Regions from separate parts of the Homo sapiens genome. Here region 2 is linked to region 1. A link means that fine-mapping ties the variant in region 1 to the expression of a gene that starts in the linked region. Tissue or cell type: prefrontal cortex. Region 1 holds a variant in brackets; the other region holds the start of a gene. All regions are shown on one strand. Distances are from middle to middle.

What was found. PIP is the estimated chance that this variant, and not a neighbour inherited with it, causes the effect.
Region 2: RSPO4 starts here. The variant in region 1 is fine-mapped to the expression of RSPO4 in prefrontal cortex (GTEx, PIP above 0.99).

The regions. Positions count from the first base shown.
Region 1 is chr20:1,112,830-1,120,932 of GRCh38, forward strand. PSMF1 (proteasome inhibitor subunit 1) reads left to right here and starts at 5,773. Exons shown (of 7, transcript NM_006814.5): 1 at 5,773-6,073. The coding sequence starts at 5,945. LOC105372493 (a long non-coding RNA gene) reads right to left here and starts at 5,619. Exons shown (of 2, transcript NR_136535.1): 1 at 5,555-5,619; 2 at 5,023-5,159. RefSeq lists enhancers at 5,524-6,166, 5,566-5,615, 5,626-5,675, 5,686-5,875, 5,916-6,045. The variant T/C (reference allele first, on the strand shown) is at 3,158.
Region 2 is chr20:997,973-1,006,075 of GRCh38, forward strand. RSPO4 (R-spondin 4) reads right to left here and starts at 4,339. Exons shown (of 5, transcript NM_001029871.4): 1 at 4,114-4,339. The coding sequence starts at 4,192. RefSeq lists an enhancer at 7,674-7,968 and a silencer at 7,763-7,943.

The DNA.
Region 1 (8,103 bases):
CGTGTTAGCTAGGATGGTCTCGATCTCCTGACCTTGTGATCCGCCCGCCTCCCAAGGTGCTGGGATTACAGGCATGAGCCACTATGCCCAGCCTAAAAATTATCATTTTTTTAAAAAAAAGAGATATCTGCTATGGGTGTCAAATATGCTAGGTACCCCACGGACAAGGGGAATGGGAAGTTGGGAAGTCTTGGATATCAGCTACTTGGTAGAAACAAAGAACAATATTAATCATAGAGGGCTTCCTGGAGGAGGTGATACGGTTGGGCTGATGCTAGGCCAAAGAAGAATTACAGTAGTGAACGATTTCGCCTCAGTGCCCATCTAGGCGCTGCCCCTTGGTTCAGTTCTTCATGGTTTCCAGGGAGGCAGGGAGCTTGGAATACCCACATTGCTGTCACTTGGCAACCAGGAACTGGTGGCTGCAGCCACCAGCCAAGTTCTTTCCATCATCCTGGGCCCTCACCTCTGGCATAGGCTCTTGGTAGTGGGGGCCCAGACAGGGAGGCACCTGCCACCTGCTTCCCTTCTCAGCCACCCACAGCCCTCATAGGGCAGAATGGGACTCTTGCTGATGTAGGTAAGTCCACAGAAAGTGCTGGATGGATCAGGGGCAACACACACACACACACACACACACACACACACACACACACACACACACCAGCCCCAGGAGTTCCTCCCATTTGTTCCCATCCCTGGAGGACCCTGGGGTTCAGGACAGGTGGAACATAGTCCTGGCCTTCAGGGGATTCACAGCCTAGTGCAAGAGATAGAGCTCACCTCATTCTTTCAATACACTGATGCCAGTGCCTATTCCATGCTGGCTGCTGGGTTACATACTTTCTTCTTCTTCTTTTTTTTTGTTTTTTGGTTTTTTTGAGACGGCGTCTCGCTCTGTCGCCCAGGTTGGAGTGCAGTGGCGCGATCTCAGCTTACTGCAAGCTCTGCCTCTCGGGTTCACGCCATTCTCCTGCCTCAGCCTCCGAGTAGCTGGAACTACAGGTGCCCGCCACCACGCCCGGCTAATTTTTTGTATTTTTAGTAGAGACGGGGTTTCACTGTGTTAGCCAGGATGGTCTCGATGTCCTGACCTCGTGATCCGCCCGCCTCAGCCTCCCAAAGTGCTGGGATTACAGGCGTGAGCCACCGCGCCCGGCCTGGGTTACGGACTTTCTAAGGCATGGCTTACCCCCGGTCAGGGGTGTGGGAGGACAGAGCAGATCGCACTACAACACCCTCATCACCCTTCAGCAGTCACCTCTAGACGCAAAGACTGCTTTCTCTAAATTATGCAACTCTGTGCCTGAGGGCCTTCCAGGACCCCAGAAGCAGCTCTCAGCCTGTGGCAGATGCCCTCAAATGCAATAGCTCTGAGACATGCCCCACACTGCCTCCCAGAGTTCCCGGGTAGGAGTGCGGTCCAGTTGCCCGTAGAGGTAACTGGCTTCATCACACTCCCTCTGCTGGCTCCCTTTCCTTCCTGTCTCACTTCCCTACTCCACTGCCCCCACCGCTATTTCCTGGAATCAGCTCCCAAATAAACCACTCAAATCCCTGTCTCACCACGGGCTTCTGAGAGAATACATGTTAAGACAGGGATGATGGTGTAGAAGAGGGAACCAGTGTTCTGTAAGATGCCAGCTACAACCAACTGTATGCAAAGCAGTGTTGAACCAAGGGGTGGGGGTGACGGAGCTGTCTGCCCTGTAAGATGCCAGCTACAACCAACTGTATGCAAACCAGTGTTGAACCAAGGGGTGGGGGTGACGGAGCTGTCTGCCCTGTAAGATGCCAGCTACAACCAACTGTATGCAAACCAGTGTTGAACCAAGGGGTGGGGGTGACGGAGCTGTCTGCCCTGTAAGATGCCAGCTACAACCAACTGTATGCAAACCAGTGTCAAGGGGTGGGGGTGACGGACCTGTCTGCCCTGTAAGATGCCAGCTACAACCAACTGTATGCAAAGCAGTGTTGAACCAAGGGGTGGGGGTGACGGAGCTGTCTGCCCTGTAAGATGCCAGCTACAACCAACTGTATGCAAACCAGTGTTGAACCAAGGGGTGGGGGTGACGGAGCTGTCTGCCCTGTAAGATGCCAGCTACAACCAACTGTATGCAAACCAGTGTTGAACCAAGGGGTGGGGGTGACGGAGCTGTCTGCCCTGTAAGATGCCAGCTACAACCAACTGTATGCAAACCAGTGTTGAACCAAGGGGTGGGGGTGATGGAGCTGTCTGCCCTGTAAGATGCCAGCTACAACCAACTGTATGCAAACCAGTGTTGAACCAAGGGGTGGGGGTGACGGAGCTGTCTGCCCTGTAAGATGCCAGCTACAACCAACTGTATGCAAAGCAGTGTTGAACCACGGGGTGGGGGTGACGGAGCTGTCTGCCCTGTAAGATGCCAGCTACAACCAACTGTATGCAAACCAGTGTTGAACCAAGGGGTGGGGGTGACGGAGCTGTCTGCCCTGTAAGATGCCAGCTACAACCAACTGTATGCAAACCAGTGTTGAACCAAGGGGTGGGGGTGACGGAGCTGTCTGCCCTGGTGCAGACAAGGAGTAGGTACATTTGCTGTAGAAAACGTAAAGGCAGTAACAAAACAGACCAAAGGCCAGTCCACTTTTTACTGTCATCATGTACCAGCAATTTGAATCAACTTCATTGATAAAATTCTCCACCTGACTAAGGCTGATAGCTCTCACTGTCCCATGCCCACCCCTTGAAAGCCCACTGATGCCAAGCACACTGAGGAAAGTGCAATTAATCATGGGCAAAGAGACGAGGGAAACCTCACTCAGGAGGCAACATTGACCTTGTAATCCCACAGAGCTAGCTGCATTCCACCATGCCTTTGCACATACTGTTTCCTTTTACTGGAACACCTTTTGATCCTTAATCCACTTTTTTTTTTTTTTTGAGACAGTCTCTCTTTATCACCCAGGCTAGAGTGCAGTGGCTTGATCTCGGCTCACTGCAACCTCTACCTCCCGGGTTCAAGCGATTCTCCTGCCTCAGCCTCCCGAATAGCTGGGATTACAGGTGCCTGCCACCACGCCCGGCTAATTTTTGTATTTTTAGTAGAGACAGGGTTTCACCATGTTGGCCAGGCTGGTCTTGAACTCCTGACCTCGTGATCCACCTGCCTCAGCC[T/C]CCCAAAGTGCTGGGATTACAGGTGTGAGCCACCATGCCTGGCCAGTACTTTTTTTTTTTTTTAAACACTAGACAGTGAGCTCTATAGGGACAGGAACCTGTTCATCTGTGTCTGGCCCACAGTAGGCACTTAGGAATGGGCTGCCACTAAGTAGGCACCTTAAGTGGACACCCTGCACTATGGTTCATGGCAGCCCAGCCTATGAAAGTTTATTGATGGAATGAATCTGTAGAAATTTTCCATAATTGGATAAGGGCATTACAAACAGAAGGGACAGAGCAAGCAAAAGCAGGGAAGACTGAAAGTGCAGAACTTCTCAGTAGAAAGGGCAAATAGCTTTATGCCACAGGCAGTACATCTCAGAGAGGAGTTCCACAGCCACTAGCTTTAGTGTCATCCAGAATGTAGTCAACATACATGCACTCTTCCTCAGACCTTCTCATCCAGAATCTCTGCAGAAGGGGTTCAAGAATCTGGTTGTCTCAAGGAAACTTTAGGAACACAAAATTTGGAGAGGCACAGGGCCAGCTGACAAAGGGAGTGATGGACTATAAAGAGGTAAGAGTGCCCTGACTGGGTTGGGGCTAGGCCAAGAATTCATTCCTTCATTCAGTATTCATTCTGTCTTTCAATAAGTATAGATTGATCCCAGAAGGCACTCAGGTACATATGTGCACAAGGTAGACATGCTCCCTGTTCCTTTGTCACAGTCTAGTGGAAAGACAGTCATTAAATAAGCAAAGAAATAAACACCTAACATAGTTTCAGGTTATGATTAATGCTTTGCAGGAAAAAAAAAAAGCCAGAGAGGGATTAAAGACGGGAGAAGGTTATTTTGGATGGAATGGTCTGGGAAGCCCTCTGTTGAGGATGGTAGGAGTGAGGGATGAAGCCACTTGAAATGAAGAAGCAAGACATGCAGATATCTGGGAAAAGAGCATTCCAGGAAGAGGAACGCAAAGGCCCAAACAGAACACATGAAACAGGGAAACTGGCTGGGAAGCTACTGCAATAGTCTAAGTGTGAGATGCTGGAGGATCAGACCAGAGTGGAAGCAGTGAAGGTGATGGGAAGTGGTCAGATTCATAATATATTTTGAGAGTGGAGTCAACTAGCTTTGCTGTTGGACCAGATGTAGATGTGAGAGAAGAGGGGGAGCCAAGGTTATTGCACGTATAAAGGGGATGAGAGGACAGTTGAAGGAGACTGAATCAGAGAGGTACAGGGCTGGCAGGGCTGGGGCAGGAGATGGCAGACCACATGCAGATTCCTGCAGACCATGGGGAGGACTTTACTTTTCCATTGAGTGTGACGATTTTGAGCCAACGGATGTGATCTGACTTTTCTTTTTTTTTTTTTTTCTTTTTTGAGACAGAAGATCGCTCTGTTGCCCAGGCTGAAGTGCAATGGTGCGATCTTGGCTCACTGCAACCTCCACCTCCACCTCCCGGGTTCGATTGATTCTCATGCCTCAGCCTCCCGAGTACCTGGGACTAAAGGCGTGCGCCACCACACCCAGCTAATTTTTGTATTTTTAGTAGAGACAGGGTTTCACCATGTTGGCCAGGCTGGTCTCAAACTCCTGACCTCAAGTGATCCGCCTGCCTCGGCCTCACAAAGTGCTGGGATTACAGGCATGAGCCGCCACACCTGGCCGATCTGACTTGTTTTCTAACAGAATCTCTCTGGTTGCGGAGTGCAGTACAGACTAGAGAGAGACAGGAATGGAATGGGGCAGTTCTGAGGCTGATGCCAGGCATCCAAGTGAAAGATGACAGGAGCTTGAACCAGGTTAGTGACTGGGATGGGGAAACTAAATTTATTTGGGTAAAAACAATAAGTGGATTTCATGAAACTTGTTGAAGTAACGGGTGGTAAAAATCATAAAGGGGGTAGGCAAATAAATGATTGAAATTTGATAGTGGGTCAGGAGCTTCAGCTCTGCGGGCAGCAGTTGTGTCTCCTTGGAGAAGTGGTTTCAACTCTGAGCCGTTTTGTCATCTGCAAAATGGGGATAATAACGGTCCATACTTCATAGAGTTGTTGAGAGGGTGATGTAAAGGTTTTAGCGCACGATGTAGCACACAATAAACACTTAATAAATGTTATCTTAGAAGCCAGACTGCCAGGTTCCCATAACCATTTCAGCCGTTCACCGGCTGGCTGTTGTCATCTTGGTCAAATTATCCCTCTGCGCCTCAGTTTCCTCATCTGTGCAATGAGGCACATTAATCGTTAATATCAACTGCATAGAGTTGGGTTGTGAAGATTAAATAAATGAATACAAGTAAAGCGTTTAGAATAATGTGGACGGTAGCAAGCACGGCGAACGTGTTAACGATTATTAAGAATGTATTTTAGCCACATTTCCCAGCCCCTTCCCCGGCCTAGCATACCCCATTTTGTGGATGGGAAGTCTGCCTCTCAGCAAGGTGGCCTCTTGGAGGACGCTGTGCCCGCGTCAGGCGATCCTGTCGACTGCCGCCAAGACCCGGCTTCCGGCTTTGAGGGGCCACGCCCCGCTCGCACTCCCTGGCGGAACCTTTCAGTGCTGCGCTCGCGTTGCCAACCCGGCGCGCCTCACGCAGTTGCGCCCGCTGTTGGGACTACTTCCGGCTTCCCCGCCCCGCCCCGTCCCCGGGCGTCTCCATTTTGGTCTCAGGTGTGGACTCGGCAAGAACCAGCGCAAGAGGGAAGCAGAGTTATAGCTACCCCGGCCGCGGAGCCGGCTCACTGCACTACCCCCGCCCCCTTCTTTCCTCCAGACGCCGAAGTCGCGGGCGCTCATGGCGGGCCTGGAGGTACTGTTCGCATCGGCAGCGCCGGCCATCACCTGCAGGCAGGACGCGCTCGTCTGCTTCTTGCATTGGGAAGTGGTGACACACGGTTACTTCGGCTTGGGTGTCGGTGACCAGGTACGCCACGGAGCCGGCCAGGGTGGAGGAGGGAACTGTCTTCTGCCCAAACTCAGAGTACCGGAGGCCTGGTCCAGAGCGCCCGATTTCCCCGCTTCTCCCAGTGCAGGGTCTGGGGCAGATGGCAGCGTTGGTAAAACCTGCGGGTCGGAGGTTGCTCACCTGCCCCATCCCAGCCCAGAGTCCCTCACGGCACAGCTGGCACAACATGATTTGTAAACTCAAGGGCGGACACTCGCTTCAACACAGCCTGGCAGCCTCTCAGGCCAGGACTGTGTGGATCTAGCATTCCATAGAATGGCAAAGAATCTAGACAGGAGTTTAGCTCCCCAGAGCACTTCTCACCCACCTGATCCCGTCTGAACTCCTTACCACCCAGCCTCGGGGTGAGGGGACTGACTCAGTTCCGCCCTCATACCACAGTAGAGCCTCCACCAAACATCTGGATCCAAGCACAGGTACAGGAGTGAGCTTTGACCTACTCAGCCCCAGGCCAGGGCCCTTTTTTCACCCGTTAGCATGGGCCCAGAGAGTTCACACGCCTTTCACCCTTTACTGAAGGGCCCAGCATAGTCCACTCGCTACTGCCATCCCCAACTCAAGCTCTAGGAAGCAATCACCCCCAGAGTCGTACACACATACACCCTGGGTGTGAGGGTCATATAAGATTTTCTCCTCATAGTTGTCCCCATAGGGCCAGCCCCTCTTCTCCCATCCCCAGGCTCCACCTCTTACAGCTAGGGACGTCGTTGTCATCCCCACAGAGTTCTAGGACTGCTGGACCCAACCCACCTCACTAATTCTTTGCTCTGGCATTCTTCTTTCTTTCCTGTCTCTTCCCTGTGACCCTCATCCCCAACATCCACATCATCCTAGACATCTGCTTCCTGGGAGAAGTGGGCCTGCCTCCATGCCTGCCCCTCACTGTCACTGTTCTCTCACTCTCAGAACCAAGACTAGCCATGGGAAACAGACCACCCCACCTATTGCATCTTGCCATGAGATTTCACCCTTCCTCTCCTTTTTGACTGCTTCAGTTCTCAACTCCTCTAATCATTTTTTTTAGCTTCTCAAATAGAGTCTTAATTCTCCCCTCCTGACATAGCTTTAGGGACCTCTCTTCAAACTTGCTTTGTACATTCTGAGCACTTAGACAAGTATCCCCTTTCCCCCACCCCTCACTGCTGTCCCTATTCCTCTCTGTCTCTTAGAACTAAAGACCAAGACCACCATACCCCTCTCACACTTTACCCCCTCCAGCAGGAATCAGAACACAAGAACCGTCAGGGATTTCTGGCTCTTTTTTTCCCCAGACCTCAATTATCTCACTGGGACCCCAGGTACACACTCAGGATCCCCATTCCCACCTCCAAACTCACACATACTTCATCTCTCAAATGGGCTCTAAGACTAGATATGAGGATGGAAAAGAACAGCTAGCCTTTCACACACACATACCTGGAAGCAGGAATCATTTCACCTTCCCAAACACATCTGTCCCTGACCTTTCTCTTTGTGCTGCTCTTCATTCCACATACCTTCCAAATGTCTTCCAGCATTTCAGACCTTGGGACCAGGTAGAGACAGCACCCCCATTTCAGCGTCAGGCCCCTCTTTCAATGCATAGTTCCCCTAACAGAAATCTTGTCTCCCCACTTGTCTTACTCCAGCTTTTTAATCTTAAGCAGCTCTTCACTTGCCCCAGTCATTTTATTTCAACTTTTCCTAGATTCTTCAAAGAAACTGGTATGTGGGATGGTGCAGGGGACAGTGGGGCTGAGAAGAGGAGTAAGATTTGATTTTGACCTGGGATCTCCTCCATTGGCCCTCAGCTCCCCCTGCCCTTTGTCTTGTCCTTCAGATGGAACAGCTCTGCTTTGCACTCTGTCCCTCCTCATGTACCTCACTCCCCTTACCTACTCCTAGCTAGCTACTTAGACTCTGCCACACTGTCAGAACCCCATCCACCTCTGCTGAGGAACTTGTTCTAGAGGGCGTGTCTGATACCCTTCTCTCCTTGCCATTCCACA
Region 2 (8,103 bases), 110 kb before region 1:
CCTACTGTGTGCCTTTGGCCCCCTTCCCTCTTGGACTGCAGTAAATCTTCCCAATTGCTCAGAGAGGTAGGTGTAAGTTTTCCCATTTCACAGATGGGGAAGCACGGACGGGAGAAGGCATGTGGCCTGCTTAATGTCACATATCTAGGGCAGGAGAGGGCTCAAGGTTTGATCCCAGGGCTCTTCACTTTGCCCCTTGCTTGCTCAGGTCTAGAAAGATCCAGAAGCTCCATGTGAATGTGGGGGTCCCTCCCCAGAAGGCCTTGGATGTCAGGGAAAGTCAGTCACAGGCTGGCATCTCCTCCTTGCCCAAATGGACCTCCAGATCTAGGGATGCGAACCAGGGCCCCCTCACTCTGCCCTACTGTCCCATTGCCAGGACACCCCAGCATGTTTCAAAAAAATGTCCCCATCTGGTTCTGATTCATTTACACTTCATTAATCAACATGCTGTTTTGTAAGAGACACTTGAGATCCAAGAATCTTTCTCAAGTCTTTTACTTCATTCTTTCTTAGAAACAGAAAAATTGGGCTTCATTAAGACGCAGTGACGCCGGAGCCTGAGGAAGGATGGGCCTGTGGGAACCAGGCCTCAAGCAGGCTCAGAGAGGGCAGATGCCAGCCCAGCACCTCATTCCTCGGGATTGTGCAGACCTGGCCAAACGCTAAGGCCAAAGACTCAGGCATGGGGGAGGCTGGAGAAAGGTGGGAAAGGGTCATCCCTCTATGTTGGCAGCTCCCCAAGGACAGGCCCAGGGCTGCTCACCTGGGTATCTCCAAGGTCCCCAACACAGAGCCTGGCACAGAGGCTGCCCTGTGAAATGAACAAGTGAATGAATGAAGCACTGCCAATACCCAGGTGTTTTCAGGACACATTCTCCTGCCAAAGTTAGATAAGGTCAAAGCTGGTAGGACCCTGAGGGATTGTGTACAGAATTTTCCAAGCAGATGCCTTATGAGAAATGGTCTCTGATGTGTAATATGTTTGGGAAAGGTCACTCTCTCTCGCTCTCTTTTTTTTTTTTTTTTTTTGAGACAGGGTCTGCTCTGTCGCCCAGGCTGGGGTGCAGTGGCACAATCACGGCTCACTGCAGCCTTGATGTCTTTCCTGGGCTGAAGCGATCCTCCCACTTCGGCTTCCTAAGTAGCTGGGACTACAGGTGTGCACCACCACCAACATGCCTGGCTATTTTTTGTATTTTTTTATAGAGACAAAAAATGTATTTTTTGTAGAGTTTTGCCATGTTGCCCAGGCTGGTCTCGAACTCCTGAGCTCAAGCTATCCTCCCATCTTGGCCTCCCAAAGTGCCAGGATTATAGGCTTGAGCCATCGCACCTGGGTTACACTGTCTGTCTCCACCTCTTCAGCATGCTCTGATAAGTCTCACAGCCAAGAAATCTGCTAAACCCAGCATTTCCCAATCTATTTGACCAGAACTCCTGTGGCTGCCTTGCAAAATATGCTACAGGAAGGGTTTATCTAGCTCTGGTCCCCACTGCAGTGCCAGTGGGAAACTGAGGCTATGGGCGGGGGACAGAGAAAATCCACTCACCCAAGGTCACATGATACAACTGGGTCAGGGGTGTGACTGAAATCCAAGGCTATCTCCATTGTACCCCAACAAATAAATGGAGCCCTAAGCCTCTTCTGAAGATGCTAGGCAGGTGTGTGTCCCAGAGGCAAGAGATCAGGTACTGGAGGAGGGATGCTGAGAGCCCCTCACCAAATTGCGGCCATATCCCTACCTCCTCACTGAGCTCCTGGGGAGGTGGTGGTGAGCTGTAGATGGGGCGGGGGGCAAAAGGGGCAGGATAGGAATTTTTCATTTTTCTTTAATTTTTTTGTCTTTTTTGAGCTGAGAAGCATCTTAAAGTCTTCTAAACCAGCTCCTTTTTGTTGTTGTTGTTGTTGTTGAGACAGAGTCTCACTCTGACACCCAGGCTGGAGTGCAGTGGCATGATCTCGGCTCACTGCAACCTCTGCCTCCTGGGTTCAAGCGACTCTCCTGCCTCAGCCTCCCAAGTAGCTGGAATTACAGGCGCCCGCCACCACACCCAGCTAATCATTGTATTTTTAGTAAAGACAGGGTTTCATCATGTTAGCCAGGCTGGTCTCAAACTCCTGATCTCAAATGATCCGCCTGCCTTGGCCTCCCAAAGTGCTGGTATTACAGGCGTGAGCCACCACACCTGGCCTAAACCAGCTCCTCTTTAGATGAGGAAACTGAGGCTCTGAGAAGGGAAGACCAGCACACCTCAGAAGATATCTTCTCAGCATTATGTCAGGCAGATTGGGATTCGAGCCTGCTTTGCTACTCACCTGCTGTGCGACCTTGGACAAGTCAGTTTCCTTCTCTGAACCTCAGTTCCCTCATCCAGAAAACAAGCATCTCTCCCCTCCCTCCACTAAGCCACTGTGAGTAGCCAAAGACACAGTGGACAGGAAATGAGAATGATTAATACTTACGAGCACCCATTAGGAGCCTGTGTCCTTAGCTACTCATCTTGCCCACAATCCTCCTTATGAGCAGGATACTTAAGTAAAAGATGGGTTGATGAAGGGAAAGGGGGTTTGTTTGATTTTTTGGTATTGTTTAGAATGGAGAAAGATCTCAGAGATCTTCTAAAGGACCCTCAGATGGGTAAAGTGAGGATTGGACAGGCAAAGTGACTTATCCAAAGTCACTCAGTTGGTAACTGGGGAAGCTGGGATTTGAACTCAGTTGACCTGGCTCCAGAGCCCATGCCCCTAACTACTAAACAAAGGCCATTCACAAAGGAGTGTCCCCATAGAGTCCCAAACTCACCCCAGCTCAGCTGAAAACCACACGCCTCTCTAGTCCCTTGTCCCACTGTCACAGCAAGAACTGGAGCCTCTTGGGCCACAGTCTCCCCAACCCCATCCAATCCCACCTCCCAATTCTCCCACAGCCTCTGTCTGCTTCCTGCTCCGTTCCAGGAGTGACTGTGTCGCTGTAGGGCTTTCACACAAATGGAAGGCCCCAGAGGGCAACCCATCCTCTCTCATTTTCCTTCCCCTTTATCCTTGCTCAGACCCGATGCCAGGGCTGGAAAGAGAGAAGACACCAGCTGGACAATTCAGCAGTTATTTAAACCAGTCTGAGCCTTGGAATCCCAGGCTTTATTAAAACTGGACGACCCCTATGTCATGAGCATATAGTTGGGATTTGATGAGCTAGGACATGAAAAACCCGTGGCATAGTGGCTGGCATTCGGCTGCTGATCTTAAGAGTGGCACCTGGAGGCCAAAGGGCTGCCCAGCTCAGGCAGGCGATTTGCTCACTTGCTCACCCGCTTACCCTTCTCTGAGGCACAGGCTCTACCAACTCCTGCTCTGCAGGGACAGCCTCCAACCCACCTTCTGAGGATGTTCTGACTCTCACAGCGAGGCTGTGGCATAGGACTCCCAGGTGAGAGCGCATGCGGCCCCTGGTACATTTATAATCTGAACCTTGGCTCATCTTCCTAGTGGCCTGAGAGGTGAAGATGGAAAAGCTGAGGCTCTCTGAGGGGCTGGACTTCTTCTAGGTCATCCCCTATTAGAATAAGTGAACCTGAACTCAGGTCTCAGGTCTGGCTGAACTCAACATAGGGGGGCCATGGAGGATCACTGCCCTCTGGGAGGTGACACCAGGAGTCAGGGTGAGTGATGAGGCTGGGACTGGGGCCTCTGGACGCCCAGCCCAAGGCTCTCTATGTCACTTCCTGGCCGAGCATGGATGCTTGGAATGGCTTCTACGCCACTGAGTCTGTCTCCTAGTCCCTGTGCCCCGCAGGCTGGCTCTTGAGTCTTCTGTCTCTGCACGAAGCCATCCTCCTTTCTGCTGACCATGCGGCTACTACAGAGAGCCCTGCTACCCTCTCCCTTCTGGGTGAGTCTCCTTGGCCCACCCTACTCAATGGCTCGCTCACTGGGTGCCCTGGAGCCTCAATCTCCCCATCTTAAGTGAGGTTGAGACTCGTCTGGAGGAGCGAAGGACCCAGGGCGCCAGGCACCAGGCAGATGCCCCCAGAGCCGCCGCCCCCGGTCCTCCGGCCCCCGGTCTGCCCCGCAGCGCCTGCCCGGCCGCCCTGCCCAGCCACCCCTTGTACCTTGCTTCTTCCTTCGGTTCAGGGCGAGCATGTCCACGGCGTGGGCGACGAGCAGGAGCAGGCAGAGTGGCGCCCGCATCTGGGCAGCCGGATCCGGGCTGGCGCTCCCCAGGCGGCCCGACGGCCCAAGGGCCCCACGTCCCGGCGGCGGCACGGCGGGCGCGGGGGCTGCTGTGGGCGCGCCGGGCGCATCCGCCAGGCGCGGGTCGGTCCGGCCGCCAGGTCTAGTGAGGGCGTTGGCGGAGCCGGGGCACTGCCCTGGCGGGGAGGAGCCGGCGCGGCGGGGGCGGCGCGTTAACCAGCTCGGGGCCCGGGAGCGCGCGCGGGGAGGGGGCGGGGGTCACCCGGGTCGGGGCCCTCGAGTTCGATCTGTCCCGCAGCCGGCGGTCTTGCGTCTTTCCCGCCCCCAGCACTGCCCCCGAGCACGTGCACGTGCCCACCGCCAGCCACAGGTACGCACGCGCGCGCAGGTACAGATGCGCGGACACCCGGAGACCCGTACGGTCCCCCGCGCCCTCTCAGCGCCTGTGATTTTCTTTCCCTCCCCCCAGTCCCCTTTCTCTGTCTGTTCCTCCTTCTGGCCCTTAAGGACAACTCCTTGTCTCCTGCTTTCTCGGTCTTTCCGCGGCCCGCGCTCCCCTGCTCTGCCCCCGACCCTGCCTGGCTGTTCCTGCATCCTTTACTCTTGCCGGCCGTCTCTCTCTCAGGCTCACTGTCTGTGTCCTCCTGGCTGGGCCTCTGGTTCTCCCTTTTCTCTGTCTCTCCCTTCAACCCCATCTCTCCCCTTCTCCCCTCCTGCAGGGTGGGGTGTTTGCGGGGCTCCTGCTGCCTGGCTTTCTCTTTTTCTCTCTACTCTGTCTCATTCTTTTAACAGAGGCCTGAGCCCCTTCTGGCCACTAACCCTGAATGTTTCCTGTGCAGTCTGCGGGGATCATCTACTCCGACTCAAAGTGACCAGCACCTCATAAATCCACTTGTGACAGGGCTGGGGACCTGGACTGTGTTTCCTCCAACCTTATCACCAGGACTGGGAGCAGCTGGTTCAAGTTTAACCCTTTCAGAGCAAAATTCCTCCTTCAACCCGACAGCATGCTCACCTCTCCTGTCACTATAACCACCAAAAACAACAACAATCATGCTAGCTATCATTTGTGAGGCATATATGGTGGGCATTGCTAAGAACTTGACATATACTAGAGTCTTCAAAACAACCCAATGGTTTGGGTTTGTATTCTGAGTAATTCCACTTTTCTGGGGAGCAAAGGGAAGCTCAGAGAGGCCAAGTGACTTGCCCAAGGCCACACAGCAGGTCAGTGGCCATTCTGGTCCAGTGCCTGCCCCTCTTAGCCACTTCTCAGGCACAGACTCATCAGAATGGAAGAGGCCTTGGAGGGAGGCCTAGAGAAACTTACAGTTGACACTCTCTTGCTGAACAATTGTCCTTCCTTTTTCTTTTCTTTTTTTTTTCTTTTTTTTGAGATGGGTTTTCACTCTGTCACCCAGGCTGGAGTGCAATGGCGCCATCTCGGCTCACTGCAACCTCTGCCTCCTGGGTTCAAGTGATTCTCCTGCCTCAGCCTCCCAAGTAGCTGGGATTACAGGCACCTGCCACCACACCCAGCTAATTTTTGTAGTTTTTAGTAGAGACGGGGTTTCACCATGTTGGCCAGGCTGGTCTTGAACTCCTGACCTCAAGTGATCCACCTGCCTCAGCCTCCCAAAGTGCTGGGACTACAGACGTGAGCCACCCCACCCAGCCTGTCCTCTTTTTTCCTACATGTGGAGCTTGCTCCAAAAGAAATGGAAGGTAAATGCTGGTATCTCCTCCAGCTCCTTCTCCCAGTGCAATGAGGGACACTTGAAGGCATGGCAGGGGCAGGGGAAACACACAGAGAGTGTGGCAGCTGAAGGTACAGCCCTGGCCTGGCCATTCTTTCTGTGGGGCCCCAAGAACGCTGGCAGACAACACGGAGAACTTGGTGGAATGTCAGAGACAGCCCACCCAAAGTGCTCCATTTCACAGATGAGGCCACTGAGCCTTCAGGACTGGGGGGTGCCTAGATTAGGCCACCCAGTGAGTCAAGGACTGAGCTGACATGGGCATCCAGGTGTCCCATTGTGGTCATCACCATGGCCTGCAAGGACCTCTTGTTCTGATATCTCTGATCTCAGTCTTTCCCACTGCCCCACCCCTCTCTCTTTAGCCTTAGAGATTTCAGCCCTTGAATATTTCACAAACACCACAGGCCTCTCACACCTCTGAGCTTTTCATGTTGTGGGGCCTCTCCATGGAATACCATCCTATATCCTACCTCCTTCTTCACTGCCTCTGCTCCAGGAAGCCTTCCCTGATTCTCAGGCCAGGTCCAGTGCCTCCTCTGGGCATCCACAATCTCTTTATCACAGCTCTGATCACATCAGGTGGTAACAATGGATGTGTCTGTTCTCCTTCCAAACTGCCATCTCTTTCAAGCCAGAGCCAGACACACAGCGGTGCTCAGAATGTTTGCATAATGAGTGCATAAATAAATGAATGGTGAATGAATGAATTCTCCAGATGCACAAGTCTCCCAGCCTGTACATGGAATGCAGGTACTTGGAGAAATGAGGTGACCCCAGAAGATCAAGCCTTAGGAAAGCGGAGGTCATTCCCTTCCCCACTACCCCCAGTACTGGAGTCTCCAAAGTCCAAAGGGGACAGCTTCCATGTGAGCAGGGCCAGAGAGGTCCAATGTGCATTGTGAATTGACAGCCAGCCACACGGCTCTGCAGGATGAAGCTGCTTACCCCTTCTTGAATTTTTTCCCCTATTTATTCCCCACTGCCTCTGCTCTAGCTAGCCTCGTGTTTCTCAGACTCTTGTCACTCATCCTGCGGTTTTTGCTGTTCTCTCTGCCTGGAAAGTCTTTCCCCAGATTTGGGGCTTGTCTCCCCTCGATGTTGCCTCCTCAGAGAGGCCCCCTGTGACCACTCCAGTAAAACGCACCACCATGCACTTTATCCTCTTGTCTTGCTTTACCCTCCGTAGTACCTGTTCATGTCTGTCAGTTCCTGTTTGCTTGTTTGTGAGTTCCATGAGGACAGGAATCTTCTATTTTGTCCCTATGTGCCTTACACTGCAGTGATTAAGACATACTTGTGGAATGGATTTTTTTAAAAAATGAGTGAATGAATAAGCACTCATTCATCCATAGATTCATTGTGGGACCTCAAGTACTTTCTGTTCTCTTAGGCTCAATTTCCCCAGTTGTTCAATGGCACAGATGGGATTTTGTGTTCTGTGAGAGCCCCTTTAGTGCTTCCAGAATTGGATATTTCTAGGGTTCTAAGGCCCAGAACTCAGGGCCCTTCATACCCCAAGATGCTCAGAGGGTGTTTGGTTCTCTAACTATGGGGGCTGTCTGGGCATCTTGGCCTGTTATCCAGTTCCCCTACCCCAATACAGGTGCCCAGGGAGGCTAGTGATGCTGATGGCATGCTCTGGCGGGGGGCGGGGAGGGGTGCACCCAAGGGTGTCAGTTAAGGCACCATTGTCACAAATAGATGAAGACAGGTATAATGGCTGAAACACACTAAGCTCACAGCATGTGTTCCTGATCAGCAGATCCTTCTCTGTGGGATAGCAGGAACTCAGATTCCTTTCAGCTTGTGTTCTGCCCTGTTCAGTACCTGGTTTAAAGCTCACCGAGAAGGGCAGGGCTTATGGGAAGTACAGAGCCTGTCTACCTATGTCCCATTGGCCAGAACTCAGACACACGGCCACACCTACCTGCAAGGGTGACTGGGAAATGTAGTCCAGCCATGTGCCAGACAACACACAGGAGGAAAAGCAAGAATTTGGTGAACATCTGGCCCATTGACCAACGTTGGGCCACCCTCATTTCTTGCCCCAGTCATGCAGTAGCTCCTTCCTGTGTCTGCTCTGACCCCTACAAGCTCTTCTTAAGCAGCCAGAGGACATGTATTATTCATCGGGTGAAGACCAAATTT